4 linked regions of the Homo sapiens genome follow. The protein of the gene in region 1 purifies or fractionates together with the protein of each later gene. This does not show direct contact. Each region holds a gene or a part of one and is shown on either strand. Other genes may lie near its edges.

Region 1 (4,082 bases):
TTGTTTCAGCTACTGAGTGATGGAACCGGAATTAAAATCCAGGTTCCTCTGACTCGTGCACAGCCTGTCTCTGAGTGGCTCTGAGGAGTGATACCTCGTTCCTCCTCGACCTCACCTCCTGGTATCCCCAGGCGGTTCACCTGTATTAGCTCATTTATACTTCTCTACAACAACATGGAGTTAGTATCATTATCCTAACAGTGCAGAAGAAACAGAGGGTCAGAGAGGTCACTCAAGAGGCAGTGGAGTCCTCAGTGCTTGTTTTACGTTTCTTAGTTTCAAATCCAGGGTTTGCCATCGCACTCTTGGGCCTCTGGTGGAAATACATGGCTTTGACAGAGACAGGTGAAGCCCTGGGAGCCTCCCATCCCCCAGACCAGCCTCTACTGAGTGCTTTGAAAGCTTGGTTGGGCTGCCCCTCTCCTGGTCCCTGGCTTTAGTGTTTCTGCAGAGGGAAGAGAGAGGATCAGTCATGTTCACCTGTCATCTCAGGCCAAGGTGAATTGAGGTGGGAGGTGGTGGGGATGTGATGGGTAGGCCCTGGTCAGTCTTCCCGCTGGCCCACCACCATCCCCGAAACCCAAATCTGCTGACTGATATTTCCCGTGTTGGGCAGTGAAGTCCTGCCCAGTTCTACCCTGGACTCAGCTGTGGGAATTGTGTTAGTGAGGACGGTCTGTCCAATATCTTCTAATTACAAAAAGGGATGTGAGGCTTGGAGCCCAGGCAGAGATGAGAGACAAAGTCACAGCTTCCTCTAGATCCTAAAGACCCAGGAACAGAACTTCCCAGAAGAAGTAATCTTGACTTCCTGTTCCACTCCAGCCCATCAGCAAAGCTTGTCCGTTCTATCTCCAAAACAGGTCTTAAAGCTGCCGCCTTTCCCTGGCTTTCTTACTGCCCCCAGTGGAAGCTCCCTTCATCTCCCCCAGGGCTACCCCAGTAGCTTCCTTTCTTTGCCCTGAAAGGCTTTCTATATACAGCATATAAAAGAATCTCCTTCAATCATAAATATGGTCACAGCGCTTCCTCGCCTAAGAAACTCATGGCCAACTCCTGTGTTTCAGATAAATGCTAAACTTTGATTTGTGCTCTAACCCACTAGGGCTGCTGTGACCTGGCTGCACCTGGCCTGGACCTGCTCTGCCCTGGATCACGTGATACCCCCAGGCTCACTCTTCTTTTCCCAGTTTCTCAAACACAGCAAGTTCTGTCCTAACTCTGGGCCTTTGCATACCTTCCCTCTCTACTGGAACCCTCCCCCAACCTTTCTCACTGAGGCCAACTTCTGCATAGGCTGCAGGCTTTTGCTTAAATGTCACTTCTTTGCAATACCTTATCACACTGGACCTTTTCCCCTTCCATGGCTATTCTCTGGAACAGTCCCTTGACTCTTTCTCTCAAAGCTCTTTCAATTACACATGTGCCTTTATATATGCATTTGTCATTGACATTTTTCATTCCGGCCTCTCTCTCCATGGGACCCTCATTTGTGCTGCTCTCACCTTCAAGAGCTTGCAGTCAGGAGAGATGCTCCATAAACCTTTGTAGAATGAATGAATGAATGAACTGACCAGTCTCCTTCTCTGTAATTCAGAGACATTAGACTGCAAGCTGGACACTGAGCAGTGGAAAAAGCCAGGCTGGCCACCCAGAGCTGAGCTCTCCCCGCCCCGGAGCTCACTTGCCAGGTGACCTTGAACAACTCCCTCCCTGTCTCTCAGCTCTGGCTTCCTATTATTTCTTTATTAAAACCACTTGATTGAGACATGACTGCTATTCATAAAGTTGCACATATTTAATGTCTATAACCTGACAAGTTTGGAGATGAGTCTACATCTGTCACTTATCATCACCGTCAGCACCATGAACACGTCCGTTACCTTCAGGCATCTGCCGCCTGTATTCTTCATGCTTCGGTTTCCTGATCTATGAGCAAGGACACTGGCCCAAGGAAGCAGTTTGCTCTTTTATTGCTGCATATCTGGCCAAAAGCCCTACCTTCAGAAAAACTAAAAATTCTGCTTACTTTATTTCTACATTTTGTTCATTTAACAAACTGCCAAATTGTTACTGTCCTTCATGAGCAGCTGCCATGACCGGCCTGGGTGGCAGCCTCCAGGCAAGATGCCCTTATCTCACGGAAGCCGATAATATTGGATCATTGTTCCTGATTTCTAAAGGCCCAAGACTCCAGGCACAGAAAACAACAGAAGCTGCCACTTACTGAGCACCTCCTATCCAGCCGACATTTTGTCCCCATGGCCTTATTTCAGGGTCTCTCAACCTTGATCCTGTTGACCTTTTGAACAGGATGATGCTTTGTGATCTTGTCCTGGGCATTGTGGGATCATCAGCAGCATCGCTGGCCTCTAGATGTCACTAACCCCCACCCCCCTTCCAGTTGTGGCAACCAAATGTGTCTGCAGACATGGCCAGATGTGCTGAGTGAGAGCACCCGCTGTATTTAATCTTCAGTCACACCATCCAGAGGGTGTAATTATTTCCATCTTACCTATGAGGAAACGGAGGCTCTGCCAGAGTTAGTGTGGAGCATAAGGTCACAGAGCTCGGGGGACCCACTCACCTCTGCTGCCTTGGATACCTGAAACTGCAGAGATGAGACTCCTTCAGAGCTTTGCAGACCCCAAACCCCAAAACTCTAGAGTCCATCCTCTCCTCGCCTCACATGCCCTCAAGCCCTGGGGACCTCCCTTTGCGGCATCGGTACTTACTGTGTCCCGTAGCTGAGTGTGCACACAGTGGAGGTGGCAGTCCCTCGGGCTCAGAAAGGGCAGAGGGCTGGCTGGATTGCAGCCAGCATTTGTCACTGACCACAGCCGGCCCTGTCTCCACCCCTCCCTGGCCCCGCCCCGGGACAGCCCCTTCCTTTCCTGGCAGGTTTCCGGCCAGCAGGCCTGCCTGCAGACGCAGCTCCCTGATCCCGAGGCTTTCACCACGATGCCCACTCGCTGCCCCCCAAGCCTTACACCACCAGCTGGGCCATCATTTTCCTGGAATGGCATGGGCACTCCTGAGAGACAAGACCAAAGAGCCTCCCTATTGTTGGCATTCCAGAGACAGGGAAAGGGACAGCTCTAGCAAACCCTCTCTTTTTCCAGGTTCTATTCCTTGGTTTTCTGCAGCTAATTTCTTGTAGATTAGGGGGGGCATATGCTTGAACCTGAGAGCTCCCCACAGGCCTGCTATGCTGACTGGGTCATAGATCCCAACAGTTAGATTCTAGTGGAAATGAGAGGGATTGAGAGACTCACCATGCCTGCAATGAATGGGTCACTGTAGCCAAGCCTGTGATTGCACCAATCACTGAATTGGGGCTCAGAAGAATGAGGGGAATTTTCAAAGTCATGCATTTAATTAGGGGCAGAGTGGGGTTGGTGCATAAGTGGCTGACTCCCAGGCCAGTGCTTGTTGCTGAGAAAGGAGTGGATTCAGGATTTCTATGGGCTTGGGTAGATTCTCCCTTTCTACTTTGAAATCCTGGTTCCCTAACTCAGCCATACACTCTTAAGAGCATTTCCAAGACACCGGTGCAGAGTGCTGTCTCAAGCCTGGTTATGTTTCTAAGGTCCCCTTGCCTGGGGGACATGGTGTGTTGTGCATGGCCGTGATCATGGAAGGTTATGTGGCTGCAGGTGGGGTGTGGAGTTGGTAGAGCAAATCAGAGGTAATACCTGGAAAGTGATTTTGATGTTCAGCAAACACTGTCCATCGACAACCTTTAAGACATTTCCTCTTCCTTCTTCATGGCTTTGGGGCCCAATTATGTGGCTGTTGGATATCCACAGAAATAATAAGAACTAGTATTTATTCACACTTTTAAAAAGACCACCTACTACACCAAGTGCTTTAAACGCATTATCTTTTTTCATCCTTACAATAACCCTTCAAGGGAGACACTGATCTCAGCCCAGTCTAGAGATGAGCACTGGGTATCTAGAGCTAAGTCCAGCTACTACTACATCTCTAGAAGCAAGCACAATACCTACTGGGTATCTAGAGGAAACACAATCACTACTGGGTATCTAGAACCAGGCATGATCACTTCTGGGTATCCAGAA
Region 2 (3,500 bases), on another chromosome or scaffold:
ACAGCCATGGAGTGTCCCTGGCAGGCAGATGGTGTGAACGCAAAGCCCAGAGCACACACCTGTCTGGAACCGCCCCAGGTGTCCGGCCGTCACGGTGAATCTGTAGCCCCACTCGGTGTTGCTCATGTCGGAGGTGAAGCGGTAATACAGAGTGTCTCCTAGGCACACAAGGATCAGAGGCCCATCAGGAACTGAAGCAACAGGGAATGGCAGCAGTGGTGTTGGGTTTCAACATTCTCCAGTAAGTTCCCTTCTCAATATTAAGTTTAAACACTGCCTGTGAAGAACCTATCTAATCGAGTATTTGTTTCACTACCTGGAAGTTCAAAATCTTTCCACTTCTGCTGAGACCCGCTGAAGCTGTGTCGGTCTTGCTGGAAGTCACTGCTGCTGGACATGGCTAACTCGTCACAGCCCTCCTCTGTGTTGCACTGAGAGTCGAATTTGATTGAGAGGTAGATGGCACCAGGAATGTGAACTTTATCCTAGGGAGGGGAAATGGAGAACACATCTGTCGATGCTGCTCACTAGACACTGACTGCAGCTGTCCCATGCCGAGTCCTGTGGCTGGACCCGGGTGTGTGAGAATGAGTGAACCACAGCCCTGGCCTCCAGGAGTGCAGAGTCCAGCTAGGGCGAGGAGCATGCACAGACTGCAAATATGGTGCGAGGGAGGCACAGCGGGGCAGGCAACACGGGGCCCCAGAGAAAGAGTGTCAGGCTGCTGTGAAGAGTGAAGAGGACAGGAGGACCCTGTTAGGAGAAGGCGGGAGTGGGAGACAAGGTGGACCTGAGTGCATGGGGTGCATTTCAGACAGGGTAACAGCCCTGTGAAGGTCTAGCATGTTCAGGGAATGGCAAGGAGCTTGGCGTGTTTGGAGTAAAGGGTGTGCTACATGGGCACGTATGCTTGGGAAGCAGGAACAGGGACAAGACCTGACTCCAGAGAGACTGGCAGGGGCAGACACTGAAGGCCCTGGGCATGAAAATGAGGCACTCAGACTCTGGACAACAGGGAAAACCCTGGAAAGCTTTGGTGAGGCTTGCACAGTGTAGCATCACTGACAGCTGGTGTGGAGCAAGGCTGGGCTGAGGCAAAAGTGAGGAAATCAGAAAGTAGCAGCAAAAGGAACCCCAGAGAAGGGCAACGGGTGTCCAGGGTCAGTGGAGAAGACAAGACCTCTTTGGGATCGAACCTGGTGGCTGACCACATGTGCCTGTATGGGACCAAGGGAGTGGGGCTGGAGCCCAGGAACATGACAAGAGAAGAGACTTGGAAGAAAGACAGGTTATACTTCTGAAAAACAAAATCTCAGCTGGCCAATAACCCAGTTCTAAATCGGTTTTCATCATCCACCTTCGCTGCTGCAGGTGCCTTCCACTCAGAAGTAGATGCCTGGGCAACTCCAACATTTCAGTTTTCTCTCCAACATTTTTAAAAGCGCTAATGGGGGCCAGGTGAGGTGGCTCACGCCTGTAATCCCAGCACTCTGGGAGGCCAAGGCGGGTGGATCACCTGAGGTCAGGAGTTAGAGACCAGCCTGGCCAATATGGTGAAACCCCGTCTCTACTAAAAATACAAAAATTAGCTGGGCATGGTGGCAGGTGCCTTTATTCCTGCTACTAGGGAGGCTGAGGCATGAGAATCACTTGAATTCGGGAGGTGGAGGTTGCAGTGAGCCGAGATCACACCACTGCACTGCAGCCTGGGCGACAGAGTGAGACTCCGTCTCAAAAAAAAGTGCTAAAGGGACTACATGGCCTTAAGTCAATGAGAATAACGGAGGCTGCCCCATTCCTGCCTCATCAAAATGCCTACCTCCCTGCCCAGGCACAAAGTTAAGGATGGAAAAGATGAGACTCTGATTCAGTTCTGGGAAATTTTAAAAAGGGGCTGTAGTATCCACGGTGGGGGCAGGTCATGAGGTGGCAGCTGAAGAGTGAGGGTCCAACCTGGACCACATTCAGACTCACTGTCTCACTGTGAAGCCAAGGACTCACTCTGAGGAGCCTGCCGCAGGGAAAGTAAAGCTCTCCTCCAGGGCTAGGTGGCCCATTTTCTTCTATTAAAACAAGAAAAGTCCGGAGAAGAGAAGACTTGCTTGTACAGAATCCCTGGCCTCAGGGAGGCAGACTGCAGTTTGTTCAAGGAAGCACTTTCCTGGACAGGTCTCTGCTGTCCAGCGGGAGAGAGCCACAGAGGGGCTGAGCATGGAGGGGCTGAGCACGGAGGGGCTGACGAGGTCTCTGCGGCTCAGTCGCTCTTATGGGGCCTGCCGGCCCCAGGCTTACCTCGAAGTTGGTGTTGTTGTTATACGGGTGTTTCGACTCCCTCACTTGCACCTCCATTCCTGGCTCCTCCATGAACTGGCATGCAGCCAGGGCCATGGTCCCCAGCATGTCCTCTCGGCAGCCCTGGAGCACTTTCTGCAGGATCTGGTGGGAAGCAGACAGATAAGGTCAGGGCCTGCAAGTGGCATCAGGAAGAAGGGACAGTTTACTTCAACCCAAGCTCCACCCAAAGGTGCTGGCATCATCTTAGACCTAGGACGAGCCTCTGTGACTCCACCACCCAAAACCAACTCCACCAGCCACCTCTCACTTGACCAGGCTCTTGGTGTCAATCAGGACACTGCAGTCCTTTCAGAATGATGCTACTTAGAGGTGGTCTGAAAGAACTAACTGAACCAATCATAAAGGGTCCTGGTCCTTGAAGGAGTCCCCAGCCAAGCAGGTGGATTGGCCTATGGATAAATAATGACCACACAATGTAATCGATGCCTGGAGTGAGGTGCAGGGTTGGGAGCTCTAGGTGGCAAGAACTGTGGGAGGACACGCCTATGCAAGGGCCTAGTAGAGGCAGGGTGGCTCCCTCTGTCCCTTCCGAAAGATAGATATGCTAGAGCAAGCCTGCCAGCACCTGCAGGGCTGCAAGGCCGGGAAAAGACCTCGAGGTCTGGTGGTGTTCTCAGATGGACAAAGCAAGGCTGAGAGGCCAAATGAACTTCCTCATGGACTGCGTGTGTGTGTGTGAAGGTGGGTGAGGGACAGGATCAAAAAGGAGCTACCGAATGTGCCTCAAGATTTCTGCACTTGGAAACTGGGAAGATGGCGACAAAGCTTTCTGGTTCAGCTGGAAATCGCGCTCAGGGCCCCTGAGTTCCTCACTAGCCCAATCCTTGGGAGAGGATACAGTGACCCTACCTTTGCTGCATTCACACCTGTCAGGGAGCTGCACAGCCACACAGGTAGCCTCGCTCCAGGAAGCACTCACTGGAGGAAGCCTGTGGGGCAGAGGAAGAACCTGGTGGGTGAGCACAAGCTCAGTCTGCATAACTACCTTCTCCCACTCATGCTTTTCTTCCAGCTGCATGAACATATCCAAAATGTAGGTCATATGGGCAGGGCCACTGAGCTCCAGGATGTCCTCGCTCACTGGCACGTGGCTAGGCCACTCGGCGAGCAGGGATGCAAGCACGTGGCGGGCGTACAGGACAGCT
Region 3 (3,500 bases), on another chromosome or scaffold:
AATCAGACCAAGAGGCCAAGGCGGGAGGATCGCTTGAGGCCAGGAGTTTGAGACCAGCCTGGGTAACACAGCAAGACCTCATTTCTAAAAAAAATGTGTTTTTTAATTAGGCAAGTCCAAGTGGTATATGCACTCTACTCTTCTTCTGTCCCTTAATGTTTCAATAAACATGCTTTGTGTAAAGTTAAACATGAGAATAAATAAAACAAACCAAAAAACACAAGATAGGTACGGAAGACAGCACCCAACCTGCCCGCAGGGGCTGGACAGATCCCCACCTCACCTGGCTAACCCCACGGAAGAAGGCCTCCTCGGCGAGGCGGGCTGGCCCATCCACTGTCTTGCCGTCATCCTCGGGGCCCCAGCTGGCACTGTAGATGTGGATGTGGTTGGGGTTCAGGCCCAGCGAGCGTGCCTCCACTGCATCTGTCACCTCGCCATCCAGCATGCGCACCCCTGGCCGTGAAGGGGGGGCACGAAGAGGGATGCTGCATGGGTCCAGCTGTCAGGGCCCCCACCCCAAGGAGCACACCCAGCCCTGCACCCCAGGGGATGAGTAAGGGAAGGGTGGAGGCTGATGCTGAGAAACCCTGAACCCCCAACTACCTGTTTGCCTCTGCCTTTCAAAGACAAGACCCAGAGAAGGAAAAAGAGAACACCTCCTGCCCCCAACCACACATTCAGGACTAGAAAGAGTCTCTGGTTCCCAAAAGAGCCTGGTGATCAAGGATCTGCCACGTGAGGACTCACAGTGGGTCGTGAGGATTTCAGGAGACTCCTGCTAGGAAACCCTCACTCCACAGGGGTCCAGCTCTTTCAGTCTTTGACCCTTTGGGAACCCTCCATGGAACAGCCACGTGATCAAAGGATCCACAGTGGGAAAGTGGCAGGCATTGGCCAGATGGGAAGTGGGCGGGAAAAATTCCACTGAAGGGCCCTCCTGAAGACAGGGTGGCCCAGGCCCACACTCACCTCCAATGCGGGCGTTGTAGGCCACACCTACACCACAGACACCGTTGTTGGCCACCGCAGCCACTTCCCCCGCACACCGTGTGCCGTGCCTGCCAGGGCCAAGCACGTAGCATGAGTAGAACAAATGGGGTGAACAGGGCCCGGCAGATGTGGCCTGAGGAGCACGAGGGATCCGCACATCCGACACCCATCATCCCCTGAGTACCCAGCCCCCATCTCCCACACTCCACTGGGCCTGTGGCCATCTCCACTCTGACCGAGCCCTCCCTCAGAGCCCCAGGTGGGCCAGGACTGTGGGAAAAGCCTCAGCCTTTTAGGCAAGGCACATCTCACCCAGGCTCAGCCCTGTTCCTTAGTGGAAGAAAGGAGAAGGGAGGCAGAGACCGGGGCCTGCCACTTCTTACCTGTTGTCATTCATCTGTGTGTACCGAGGCTGGGGGTCAGGGTCCTGGTCATTGACATCAAAACTGGCCCCAGGATCCTAAGAAGGATTTGGCCACCATCAGGAGAAGGCTGACCTCACTGATAGAACAAGACAGCCTCTAGACACACCTCAGCAGGGATCACGGCCTCCCTCCCCGACTTCCTCACATAATTGCCTGCCAAGTCCGGGTGGTTCTTCTCGATGCCATCGTCCAGAATGGAGACCACAATGCCGTGCCCTGTGTAGCCCTGCGCCCAGGCCGCCTTCACATTCAGGTCCCGCTGAGTGACACCAGACTGTGGAGACACCCACCCCATCACTTATGAGACATGATTGGTTTTGTGAGGCTAGGAGCATCTTGAAGAATCCCTTTGCCCCCGTAAAACCTCCTCCTGTACCATCCCTGCTCCTGAAAGGCCGCCACTGGCTGTCTGGACTCCATGGGAATGTAGAGGACTCTGGGAGGGCCACCCCCAGGCTTGCTTATTAGGATGGGCCAAGGAGAGACTGCCCAGCAGGAGGAAAGGAAACGAATCAGAGGAGGCCTCGAAGACAGCCTCCTCCATCCAAGAGCTCATAGTGGGTGGATGGTGCATCTGGGGAGGAGGTCCCAGCAGCGAAGAAGGCCACGTACCAGGTACCACTGCTGAGGAAACTTGGGGTCTGTGGGCTCCTGGTACACGTCCCGTTTAGTCCGTCGCTTTGCCACCTGCTGTTCCAGCCACTGTACCTGTGGGGGAGTGAGGGAGAGATGGTGTGGGTGGAGCAGGAGGCGAGAGGGGCTCCTGAGAGCAGGAGGGGGAGGGTGGCAGCAGGAGGGGGCTGGGGCCACACTCACTTGAGGCTCCCTCTGCAGCCGGCTGTGCCGCGGGCGGTGAGGCGACAGGGACCGCTTCGTCACTCCTCGATGCCAGAAGTGGTAATAGTCCCCGAAGATCTGCAATAGAGCAGGGAGACTGAGCTGGGCTTTCCATCTGTCAGTCCCCGGGAGGCGGGGGACGGGGGTGGACAACGGCTTCATGGGAGGCTCGCCACGGTCGGGGGTGCGGGGCATCTGCTCCCTGTCCGGGACCCAGCAAAATGCGGGGACCATGAGGACTCACTCTCACTGGGATATGCTGCTTGCCTGAACCACCTGTGCTTTGCTCATGGCCACCCAGAACATGCCGGCTACCCAGATGCCCCTGAGCAAACAAGGCCAACAGCTCCTGCTCCCAGAATCCCTGTCTTCTCTGGTCCCACCCCCTGGCAGTGTCCTGTGGGGGAACACCTACCTGGCCCAGGTTGAGGAACCCATGCTTCCGTGCCACACTGTTGGCCACCGCTGGGCCTCCAGGGATGCGCACAGCCCACGTGTTGGTGAAGACCTTCTGGCCCTGAGCATCAGCTGCTAGCAGGACCAAGGTTCCTGTTGCTGCTACCACCCATAGCAACCAGGGCCTCAGCTCCATGGGGGGGACAGGTGGCTGGGACCCTGGAGCGCCCGTCTCCTTGGCCTGGTCACAGGGCCTCGGCTCCCAGGTGCCTGCTCACTGCCTGTGGCCCGGGGCTGACTGGTGGGGGCATGGGGCCGAGACGGGCAGGGCTCGGGAGGGTGAAGAGTGCCGACCCTGAGAGGAACAAGAGGGGAAAAGGGGAGAGAGGGTCAGTTCCTCCCCTGCTACGCACTAAAGCTGCCCTGCCCACCCCAAGTTTCAATTGGGGCCTGAAATGAGATCTGGGGGAGAAGGGTAAAAAAATTAGTCCTCCCCAGAAGAAATCTAGCCCCCAAGGCCAGCCACATAGATGGACAGATGGATGCCCTCACAATCCCCCCCAATCCTTTCTCCATGCAAGAATATAAGAAATGTAACAGAAGGGCCAGGCATGGTGGCTCACTTCTGTCATCCAGCACTTTGGGAGGCTGAGGCGGGTGGATCACCTGAGGTCAGGAGTTCGAGGCCAGCCTGGCCAACATGGTGCAACCTCGTCTCTACTAAAAATACAAACATGAGCCAAGTGTGGTGGCGGGTGCTTGTAGTGCCAGCGACTTGGGAGGCTGAGGCACAAGAATTGCTTGAGCCCAGGAGGTGGAGGTTGCAGTGAGCCAAGATCGCGCCACTGC
Region 4 (2,510 bases), on another chromosome or scaffold:
CATGGGCCCCTCCCTCCCTCAGCCCCCACAGAGGCAGCCTGTGGCCTCCTCCCTCCCGGGAAGTGCAGCCCAGGCTCAGGCAGGCGGGCTGCCATCTGGAAGACCAACGACGGCCTGCGGGTGTTCCCGTGGGGCCGCTCTTTCTTCTTCAGGTTCAATACTCCGTGCACCACGCGGATCGGACCCCTCCACGCCTGGGGGCCTGGACTTGGTTTCCACTTCCTGCCCTGGGACAACCCAGGTGCTGAGCCCCGGCCTGGGGCTGGCCTGGGAGGGGGCTGGACTCTGCTGGGGCCTGGAGAGGCCCAGACCTCATCCCCTGACAACTCTCTGGGCCGTGGGGCCAGACCCCGCTGTGGGGCCACAGGCTCCGTCTCCACTGAGGACTGTGTGCGCTCCAGAACGGCAGCCTGAGGCCTGCTGCGCATAGACCTGGGCCCCAGTCATGGCCTGGAGGGGAAGGCGGGGCCGCAGGCAGGGGCCAGGCAGCGTGGGCCGGGTTCTTGGAAATATCTTTATTGTCAGCAAGGCAGGGAATGGTGGGAACCAGGGTGTCCCGCTGGAGGGTCAGGAGGGAGCCACAAGCCGCCTGGGAGGCCGTATCCGGTCGTTGATCCAGTCCACATAGTTGGCCACGCGGGTGTAGACCCCCGGCTTGTGGAGCCGCCCGCAGCCGTCACCCCAGCTGATGATGCCGTAGAGGTAAGCCACGCCGTTCTTCTCGCAGGCCAGGGGCCCCCCTGAGTCCCCCTGGGCAGAGACGTTGGTCAGAGCCACCCTCCCAGGGGCCTGGTTCAGGGACCCCCCTCTCCCCCAAGTGGCAGCTTGGGGACAGAGGACAAAGGCATTTCTGAGCAAGGGAGCTGATCCACTCTCCTGAACCTCATGAAAAGGTGTCTCATTCCCTGGGGGCAGCACTGGCTGGGCCAGGGCATCCAACCACGTTATTCCCCTTCCTGAAGCCACGGTCCCCCTCTCCCCACCAGCATGAACCCTGTGTGGACCACACAGCCACCCTGTGTCCCAGCACCTCCTGAAATGACTTCTTCACTCCCTGGAAAACTCCTACGCATCACTCAGGACCAGTGCAAACACTCCCTCCTCCAGGAAACCATCCTGACTTCCCTTATCGAGGTCCAGTGACAAGCCCTACCCACTCTACCACTCCTGGGCTTTGTGGCCTTGGAAGAGTGAATTGACTGCCTGGGGCTCAGTCTCCCCAGCTATAAAATGGGGCATAAGAGAGCCGTCGCATGCCAGGGTTGCCGTGCCGCCTGAGCACACAGGCCTGCAGAGCCCAGGACGTGGTTGGGCTGTTGGGCTTATTGAAGGTTGAAGAACTTATTGAAGGTTGAAGAGCTGGCTTGAGAGAACTCGGGGCAAAGGGGCCTTTGGTGCCTAGTGTCACACGGAAAGCACTGCCTTGGGCTGGACAGCCAGGAACTGTCCGGGCTCTGTGGGACCCCAGGCCCCTCTCAGAGCCTGGGTCTCCCCTTCTGTGTGAGGAGGATGCCCTTCCGGCAGGGCTCTGGGTGGCCCTGGGGTGCTGGCCACCGACAGTAAGTGTGCTCCCTGCCCAGGGGTCCCTGGCTGGCCCTGCCAGGTTGGGGTGCCGCCAGGCTCTGGGCTCCCCAGGGGCAAGCATCTCGGAGACTCAGGACCAGCTGAGCCCCCACCAGTCGGGTCCTGGTGGGGCGGGCACCAGCTCACCTGGCAGGCGTCGGACTTGCAGTCGAAGTAGCCGGCACAGAGCATGTTGGGGCTGATGTCGGCGCCGTAGACCTCAGGGCTGCTGCACTTGTGGTCGGCGACCAGGGGGACCAGGGCCTCCCGCAGGGAGCTGGAGTAGCCGCTCACGTCTGTGGGACACAATGCCCTCAGCGTGACACCCACACTGTGGCTGGCCACTGTCCACCCTGGCGGGGCGCTGGGCGCCCCCCTCCCAACTCACTCTCATCCAAGTGGCCCCAGCCCGCAATCTGGCACTTGTGTCCTGCGGGGAAGGTGCTGCCGGGCTCGGGCAGGCAGATGGGCTGCACGAACTGCGAGCGTGTGGCACAGCGGTCCCCTTTCTTCTTCAGCCGGATCAGGACTGATCAGAAGAGTGGCCAGGGTCAGCCTGTGGTGTGCGGGCTGAACGGGAGGCTGTCGGGGCCCGTGGTGGAGGGAGGGTAGCCAGTGGGGTCCACAGGGCAGCCTGGGAGATCCAGAAGGGAGCGGTGCCCTGTCCTCCCTGCCCTGCCCCCAGCTTCCCCCGCACCACATGTCTGCCCAGCTCCTGCCCCTGTCTGGGCCTGGCCTGGGGAGCACAGGGCCCACCTGCCCAGAGTGCAGCCACGACACGCCGGAGCTCACCGAGGTCGTGGTCGCTGGGGTTGAACACCGAGTACAGGGTGTACGGGATGTACTTCTCGATGCCGAAGGTCTGCGTCACGTCCGTCGTGCGGTTGAAGAAGTGCTGGCCCAGCACCACGGAGACGCTGTCCCTGGGGGGGCTGTGCAAGGGGGGC

What was found. Proteins that work in one complex are often made in the same cells at the same time.
Region 2: the proteins of SERPINA5 (region 1) and ZZEF1 purify together in Homo sapiens (affinity purification with mass spectrometry; 2 studies listed by BioGRID and IntAct, with this or other methods). This does not show direct contact.
Region 3: the proteins of SERPINA5 (region 1) and FURIN purify together in Homo sapiens (affinity purification with mass spectrometry; 2 studies listed by BioGRID and IntAct, with this or other methods). This does not show direct contact.
Region 4: the proteins of SERPINA5 (region 1) and HGFAC purify together in Homo sapiens (affinity purification with mass spectrometry; 2 studies listed by BioGRID and IntAct, with this or other methods). This does not show direct contact.

Annotation. Positions count from the first base shown.
Region 1 is NC_000014.9:94,580,144-94,584,225, reverse strand, and holds the start of SERPINA5 (plasma serine protease inhibitor preproprotein), read right to left. Parts: upstream 2,801-4,082; 5' UTR 2,736-2,800; intron 2,612-2,735; 5' UTR 2,516-2,611; intron 1-2,515. UniProt on the Homo sapiens protein: Heparin-dependent serine protease inhibitor acting in body fluids and secretions. Inactivates serine proteases by binding irreversibly to their serine activation site. Involved in the regulation of intravascular and extravascular proteolytic activities.
Region 2 is NC_000017.11:4,014,031-4,017,530, forward strand, and holds part of ZZEF1 (zinc finger ZZ-type and EF-hand domain-containing protein 1), read right to left. Parts: coding exon 3,341-3,500; intron 2,745-3,340; exon of another isoform or gene 2,603-2,744; intron 2,437-2,602; coding exon 2,293-2,436; intron 486-2,292; coding exon 317-485; intron 159-316; coding exon 60-158; intron 1-59. UniProt on the Homo sapiens protein: Histone H3 reader which may act as a transcriptional coactivator for KLF6 and KLF9 transcription factors.
Region 3 is NC_000015.10:90,875,088-90,878,587, reverse strand, and holds part of FURIN (furin isoform 1 preproprotein), read right to left. Parts: intron 3,007-3,500; 5' UTR 2,848-3,006; coding exon 2,671-2,847; intron 2,334-2,670; coding exon 2,235-2,333; intron 2,127-2,234; coding exon 2,031-2,126; intron 1,693-2,030; coding exon 1,564-1,692; intron 1,454-1,563; coding exon 1,377-1,453; intron 1,062-1,376; coding exon 973-1,061; intron 457-972; coding exon 284-456; intron 1-283. UniProt on the Homo sapiens protein: Ubiquitous endoprotease within constitutive secretory pathways capable of cleavage at the RX(K/R)R consensus motif. Mediates processing of TGFB1, an essential step in TGF-beta-1 activation.
Region 4 is NC_000004.12:3,447,477-3,449,986, reverse strand, and holds the end of HGFAC (hepatocyte growth factor activator serine protease isoform 2 preproprotein), read right to left. Parts: intron 2,496-2,510; coding exon 2,356-2,495; intron 2,093-2,355; coding exon 1,952-2,092; intron 1,860-1,951; coding exon 1,711-1,859; intron 751-1,710; coding exon 568-750; 3' UTR 501-567; downstream 1-500. UniProt on the Homo sapiens protein: Serine protease that hydrolyzes the inactive zymogen hepatocyte growth factor (HGFsc) to an activated disulfide-linked heterodimer, then initiating hepatocyte growth factor receptor signaling pathway.